Linked DNA regions of Homo sapiens. The protein of the gene in region 1 interacts with the protein of each later gene in a biochemical or structural test. Each region holds a gene or a part of one and is shown on either strand. Other genes may lie near its edges.

What was found.
Region 2: the proteins of USP19 (region 1) and WWC1 interact in a test that uses a peptide from one of them, tested with the Homo sapiens proteins (one large-scale study listed by IntAct).

Annotation. Positions count from the first base shown.
Region 1 is NC_000003.12:49,110,697-49,114,510, reverse strand, and holds part of USP19 (ubiquitin carboxyl-terminal hydrolase 19), read left to right. Parts: intron 1-226; coding exon 227-337; intron 338-417; coding exon 418-519; intron 520-1,881; coding exon 1,882-2,022; intron 2,023-2,108; coding exon 2,109-2,227; intron 2,228-2,462; coding exon 2,463-2,600; intron 2,601-2,697; coding exon 2,698-3,011; intron 3,012-3,145; coding exon 3,146-3,256; intron 3,257-3,344; coding exon 3,345-3,561; intron 3,562-3,647; coding exon 3,648-3,800; intron 3,801-3,814. UniProt on the Homo sapiens protein: Deubiquitinating enzyme that regulates the degradation of various proteins by removing ubiquitin moieties, thereby preventing their proteasomal degradation. Stabilizes RNF123, which promotes CDKN1B degradation and contributes to cell proliferation.
Region 2 is NC_000005.10:168,469,465-168,472,937, reverse strand, and holds the end of WWC1 (protein KIBRA), read right to left. Parts: 3' UTR 635-3,473; downstream 1-634. UniProt on the Homo sapiens protein: Regulator of the Hippo signaling pathway, also known as the Salvador-Warts-Hippo (SWH) pathway.

The DNA.
Region 1 (3,814 bases):
CAATTCGTAAAGTGGCTAAGCTGAGTAGGGCTTTGAGTGCCAGAAAGAAGGATTGTTATTTCCTGGTGGTCCTCCTGCCCTGTCTAGTGTCCTGAAGCCTGAGAGTTTGCTGGTTGGCTGTGGGGGCCCTGAGAGCCATCAGAAGCCCCGGAATGGGCTCTCTGAGCATGAGCATCTTATCTCCCACTCTGTGTGCAGCTACCCAGTGCCACCTCTACATCCACAGGTCTCCATCACTTTTGACCCGTTTCTTTATCTGCCGGTGCCCTTGCCACAAAAGCAAAAGGTTCTCCCTGTCTTTTATTTTGCCCGAGAGCCCCACAGCAAGCCCATCAAGGTGAGGAGTAAGCCCCTACCCTCTGGGCTGTTCTAGAGAACGTGGCCCACCTCCCTCACTGACTGCCCTTTTTGCCACAGTTCCTGGTGAGCGTCAGCAAGGAGAACTCCACTGCGAGCGAAGTATTGGACTCCCTCTCTCAGAGTGTTCATGTGAAGCCTGAGAACCTGCGTTTGGCGGAGGTATCTTTGTCCTTCCTTGGGCTATCACATGTGTGGATGTGTGTGTGTACTCACCACAGACGTGTGTACAGTCATTGGCATCTACAGACATACACATGGGCTGGGCACAGTGGCTCATGCCTGTAGTCCCAGCACTTTGTGAGGCCGAGGTGGGCAGATCACTTGAGCCCAGGAGTTTGGGACCAGCCTGGGCAACTTGGTGAAACACTGTCTCTACAAGAAATAAAATTAGCTGGGCATGGTGGTACGTGTTATAGTCCCAGCTACTTGGGAGGCTGAGGCAAGAGGCTCACTTGAGCCCGGGATGTGGAGGTTGCAGTGAGCAGAGATTGCACCACAGCACTCCAGCCTGGGTGACAGAGTGAGACTCTGTCTCAAAAATAAATAAATAAATAGATAAAAAAATAAAAATAGGGCCAGGCGTGGTGGCTCATGCCTGTAATCCCAGCTCTTTGGGAGGCCAAGGCTGATGGATCACAAGGTCAGGAGATCCAGACCACCCTGGCTTACATGGTGAAACCCCACCTCTACTAAAAATACAGGAAAAGTTAGCCGGGCGTGGTGGCACATGTCTGTAGTCCCAGCTGCTCAGGAGGCTGAGGCAGGAGAATCGCTTGAACCTGGGAGGCAGAGGTTGCAGTGAGCCGAGATCGCGCCACTGCACTCCAGCCTGGGTGACAGAGTGAGACTCTGTCTCAAAAATAAAATAAAATAAAATAAAAATAGACATACACATGAGTATGCCTGTGACTGTACAAAAACAGGCGATGTGCTGTTATTTTTTCTGTGCAACAGAAGTGCCCTCAGTTCCTAGCCATTATCAGGGTTTATTCCCCTTTGTGGTGGTGGATCCCAACTGCATTTCCCTTTTTAGACAAGGAGCTTGAGCTGCAGGACTATCCCTATGTTCGCTCTGCCTCTCCCTCTATCCTGCTGCTCTCTCCTTTTATCCCAGTTGTGTGTGCTAGCTCTCCCCAGGGGTTCCTAGCCTTTAGCCTGACAGTGTTGGTTTTCTTAGGGGTAAGAGTGGGGAGGAGGCTCTTTGAATGTGGACCCTCCATGATAATATGTTACAGTCTTATAAGGCTATGCTAGTTATAGCAGGGCAGAGTCCCTCAGTGTGGAGAGCTGGTGTGGTTGATATCTGCCTCACACCTGGTCTTTCAGGCCCTCTGATGCACCAGGCTCCTTATGGCATTGGGCACTGAGACAGGTGCCAGCAGAGGCATAAGCCTATTTGGGCCTACAGACCTCACCACTGCCCACATAGACCCAAGGCAGGGCCAAGCCTTCTTAAACTCTGGGGCAGGGCTAGGGAAAGGGCTTATCCTCACGTGGGATCTGTGTGTTCTCTGTCCCCAGGTAATTAAGAATCGTTTTCATCGTGTGTTCCTACCCTCCCACTCACTGGACACTGTGTCCCCATCTGATACGCTCCTCTGCTTTGAGCTGCTATCCTCAGAGTTGGCTAAGGAGCGGGTAGTGGTGCTAGAGGTGCAACAGGTGAGTGGGGGCCAACCTGATGGCACAGCGCCCTGGTGGGTGGGGCACTTCTTCCTGGTCTTGCTGAGCCAGACGACCCACCCTAGCGCCCCCAGGTGCCCAGCGTCCCCATCTCCAAGTGTGCAGCCTGCCAGCGGAAGCAACAGTCGGAGGATGAAAAGCTGAAGCGCTGTACCCGGTGCTACCGTGTGGGCTACTGCAACCAGTGAGGACCCCCATGGTCTCCCCTACCCTTTCTTTCCACCTTCCATGTGCCACCCTGCTCCTTCCCTTCACACCAAGGCACATATGCTTAAGCTTTCTACTTGCCACCCTACTTTACCAGGCTCTGGGGGAGGCAGGGCTGGCGTACCCAGTTCCCAGGGACTATGACTAGCCCCCAGTATGGAGTCATAGGAGATGGGGCTAAGGGCCTATCCTTGTCTTCCTCTTCCCGTCAGGCTCTGCCAGAAAACCCACTGGCCTGACCACAAGGGCCTCTGCCGACCTGAGAACATTGGCTACCCCTTCCTGGTCAGTGTACCTGCCTCACGCCTCACTTATGCCCGCCTCGCTCAGTTGCTAGAGGGCTATGCCCGGTAAGTGCCCAGTGGTTGGACTAGAGTGGTGTAGGTGGGGGCAGAGGTGCTAGATGGGCTGGTCAGGAGTCTTACTTGCGTTGTTCTCTGTTGCCAGGTACTCTGTGAGTGTATTCCAGCCACCCTTTCAGCCAGGCCGCATGGCCTTGGAGTCTCAGAGCCCTGGCTGCACCACACTGCTCTCCACAGGTTCCCTGGAGGCTGGGGACAGCGAGAGAGACCCCATTCAGCCACCTGAGCTCCAGCTGGTGACCCCTATGGCTGAGGGGGACACAGGGCTTCCCCGGGTGTGGGCAGCCCCTGACCGGGGTCCTGTGCCCAGCACCAGTGGAATTTCTTCTGAGATGCTGGCCAGTGGGCCCATTGAGGTTGGCTCCTTGCCAGCTGGCGAGAGGGTGTCCCGACCCGAAGGTAAGATCCAGTGAAAGGCTCTAGAAGCTGGGGAGGAGGATAAGGGAGGATGGAGGGGGCTGTTGTTTAGGGCCTGGTGGGCCTGGTGAGGCCCTGATGGGCAGGGAAGCTTTGATTATCATGTTCTCACACAGCTGCTGTGCCTGGGTACCAGCATCCAAGTGAAGCTATGAATGCCCACACACCCCAGTTCTTCATCTATAAAATTGATTCATCCAACCGAGAGCAGCGGCTAGAGGACAAAGGTGTCTGAGGCTGTGGGTGGGAGCCATGGGGTGGGTTGAGCTGGCTGTTCTCCACAGCTGCATGACCTCTCTCCCTGCGAATCTCCAGGAGACACCCCACTGGAGCTGGGTGACGACTGTAGCCTGGCTCTCGTCTGGCGGAACAATGAGCGCTTGCAGGAGTTTGTGTTGGTAGCCTCCAAGGAGCTGGAATGTGCTGAGGATCCAGGCTCTGCCGGTGAGGCTGCCCGGGCCGGCCACTTCACCCTGGACCAGTGCCTCAACCTCTTCACACGGCCTGAGGTGCTGGCACCCGAGGAGGCCTGGTGAGAACAGAGCAGCAAGTAGATAAGGGGGCAGGATGGAGAAGAGAGAGACTTGCTGGTCCTGACCCAATCTCTGTCCCCACCAGGTACTGCCCACAGTGCAAACAGCACCGTGAGGCCTCCAAGCAGCTGTTGCTATGGCGCCTGCCAAATGTTCTCATCGTGCAGCTCAAGCGCTTCTCCTTTCGTAGTTTTATCTGGCGTGACAAGATCAATGACTTGGTGGAGTTCCCTGTTAGGTAAGCAGTGGACC
Region 2 (3,473 bases), on another chromosome or scaffold:
GTGGAGAGGGATCTTGAGGGGTGAGGCTCCAGCTGAGACCTGAAGGGTGAGAAGAAGCTGGCTATGTGAAGTCGATGTGAAGACATGGAGGAAGAGTGCACCAGGCAGAAGGAATTAGGACTGCAAAGTGCTGGTGGAGGGAAGGAGAAAAAGAAAGGCCAGCGTGGCTGGAGACTGCTTAGCAAGGGGATAGTTAACTAGAAGAATCTTAGTCATTAGCCTTCTTGAGATACAGAAAGCACATGTGCATATTGCAAAAAGGTCTGTACTCAAAGGCAACCGTTGCCTTTAGGAGTGGGAGGACCAAACCCAGTGAGGTTTGCTGTCTTTTTTCAGAGTAGTATCCTAGTATCCTGCCTTTCTCCCCACCCTGTGCAGAGAAACCACAGGAATTTGTGACTTCATTCTTCAAGACCAAGGATTCTACGGCTCTACAATTAGGGCCTCATGTGGTGTGCTGTGGTAACGCCACCGTGAAACAGAAGCTGGAGCTGAAAGAAAATAGAGATTTTGGAGTTGAAAGATGGAATTAGCATCCTAGCTGTAGCCATTTATTATTTATGTGAGCTTGAGGGGGTCATTTCACATTTCCCGGCTTTGTTTCCTGAAGGTCCTGGAAAAGACACATGCACAATTATAAGTGAACATTTATTTATTTTTAAATTTCTCTCTAGGCAAACAATGGAATGTATTGGTGGTTTGCTGGTGAACCGTTTATAGAGAATTCAACTCCATCCATGGCTGGAAGAGGGTCTGCTGCCTTCCGCAGAGGTGGTCTGGTTCTCCCCACAAATGCCCCGACAGCTGAAGTGATGCTGAGATGCACTTCTTCAGGCAGGAGGATTTGCTCCATGTAGCTTTTCCTATACACAGGGAGGGCGTTTACAGCTCTGCTTCATAGCAGCGGATGCTGCAGGGGTATGAGGGGCTGACCCTTGCTGGGACAACTGAGCACAGATGAATGTGTCACTGAGAAGGAATTCCATAACACATGTGACTTTCAAAGTTTTTATTGAGTCCAAATGGACTGCAGATACAGTGAGGATGCTGCTGCCTTTTGTGCCAATGAATTCAGGCTCCAAGATCCCCAGGACACCCCCATTCTGTCTCCATCTCTTGCATCTGCTTTCCTTTGCAGGTTGACCTCATTTTCCTAATCCCATTGCCCCCATGAAGCTGGAACCATGGCCAGAGGTAGCCTTGGGAAGAGAAAATCTCATCTCTAACCTTTGAGTGGAAAATGCTAAGGAATGGTTCTGAATGGCTCAGCTGGACCCCATGCCTCTCCTTGGTCTAATCATGGGAGCCAAAGGGATGGGTCACTTACAGCCAGCTTGGGGCATTTGCCCCGTTGCTGTGGCCAATGCCCTTAACAGAAGGGCAGAAAAGATCATGGGGTCAGCAAAGAGAGCAGCCTCCTCAAAGCTCAGAGGAGTGTAGGCACAGGTGCCACAGAGCAGCACGAGACCATCCTTGTGCTCTACAACCTAGTACAATTGAGTTGGGGAAGGTGTTGATTGATACTCATATGAAGACATTACGAAGTAAACCCTGAATGTGTCTGGTGGAATTCAATGGAAGGAGAGAGAACATCAGAGATTGATGTGTTCAGAGACGTGAAGCCACGGGGCAGGAGGAAGCCCTGGGCCAGTGGTGAGAAATCGGGCTGGATAGCAGCTATACAGGGGGGCCTGGAAGCCACAGGGGGAAGAAGAGTAGATTCTACACCACTATAGGTTCCTTATACATGAGGAGAGACAGCCAGGTAAGGAGTATGCTGGGGAGAGGGGGAAGAGCCTCAGCAGCAAGTGAAGGTGGCACCACTCCCTCCATCACCGCCCATGGGTTCCCAGTAGCCTGGAGAAGGCCATGAATTTCAGCGTTCCCTGTGTGACTCACCAATAGGATGCGGGCCTCACCATTTTGCCTGTCTCTGCCTGGGTTTCACTCACTTTATACCAGTGGGGCTCTCAAATTGCGGTGTGCATAAGACTTACAGAGGGAACATGGGTAAAACACTGGCACTGGGGACCGTCCCAGGGTGGGCGGGATAGTTCAGTGGGTCTAGAGAGGACCTGACAGTCTGCATTTTATTTTTATTATTATTATTTTTTTGAGATGGAGTTACGCTCTTGTTGCCCAGGCTGGAGTCAATGGCGCCATCTCGGCTCACCGCAACCTCCGCCTCCTGGGTTCAAGCCTTGGCCACCCAAGTAGCTGGGATTACAGGTATGCGCCACTACGCCCAGCTAATTATGTATTTTTAGTAGAGACCAGGTTTCTCCATGTTGATCAGGCTGGTCTCGAACCCCCGATCTCAGTTGATCTGCCCGCCTCAGCCTCCCAAAGTGCTGGGATTACAAGCATGAGCCACCGCGCCAGCCAGTCTGCATTTTTCTTTTTTTTTTTTTTTTGAGACGGAGTCTTGCTCTGTCACCCAGGCTGGAGTGCAGTGGCACAATCTCAGCTCACTGCAAGCTCTGCCTCCCAGGTTCAGGTCATTCTCCTGCCTCAGCCTCCCGAGTAGCTGCCCGCCACCACGGCCGGCTAATTTTTTGTATTTTTAGTAGAGACAGGGTTTCACCGTGTTAGCCAGGATGGTCTCAACAGTCTGCATTTTTAATAGGCTGCCCCAGGTGATTCTGATATAGCTGGTGCAACTTGCTTTGCTGAGTGGTGCAACAGACTTTGAGAAAAGTTGCACAGGGTAATGTCAGAGAGGAAGGAGGAAGAGATTTGTGGCTGTTGCTATTTGTTAGAAACTGACTTCTGATTGTCTGCAGTAGACCCTGCAAAGCTCTGAGCTGGGTAGGAATAGGGGCCACAGGAGCAGCATGAAGCACAAGCTGTAGCACCTACCAGCCCCTGGGTTGGGGACGACATGGGATGATGCTCATATGAACAAACTGTGAAGTCATCTCTCTCTGGGTGGGGTGGAATTCCATAGAAGGAGACAGTACAGAGAGCATATCCCCAGTCTAACTTGGGGATGTGGATTCCCAATGAGCCGAGCAGTCATTTTAATTTAATGAGCAAATGAAAACAGTGGGCAAAAGAAAAAATAAATGTTTCCAGGACTGCGGATGGGTGGGAAAGAAATGACTGGAAAGGGGAGAGTCAAAAATCAGGGAAACAGATGAAGTGAGGGGTAGGAAAGAAAAAGAGAGCAAGAGGAAGATTCTTTTTGAAAGGCCACTTTATTGATGGAGATAAAACTGAATGGAGTTCCCCACAGCCCTCCCCTCACTCATGTTAGTGGCTTCACTGGGCATCTGAGACCAGCGTGGCCTGTCACCCACATAGACTAGGCTGCTTAGCCCACCCAGCCTATCACACTGCCCGCTCCACGTTGGGCAGCCACATAAAAACACGTCACAGCTCAAGAAGATCCGTGGATGCACCTCTGAATCCCCCCCAATGGTTTCTGTGCATTTTTTTAATATTGTACAAAATATGTTAACTAGGAAAAATTA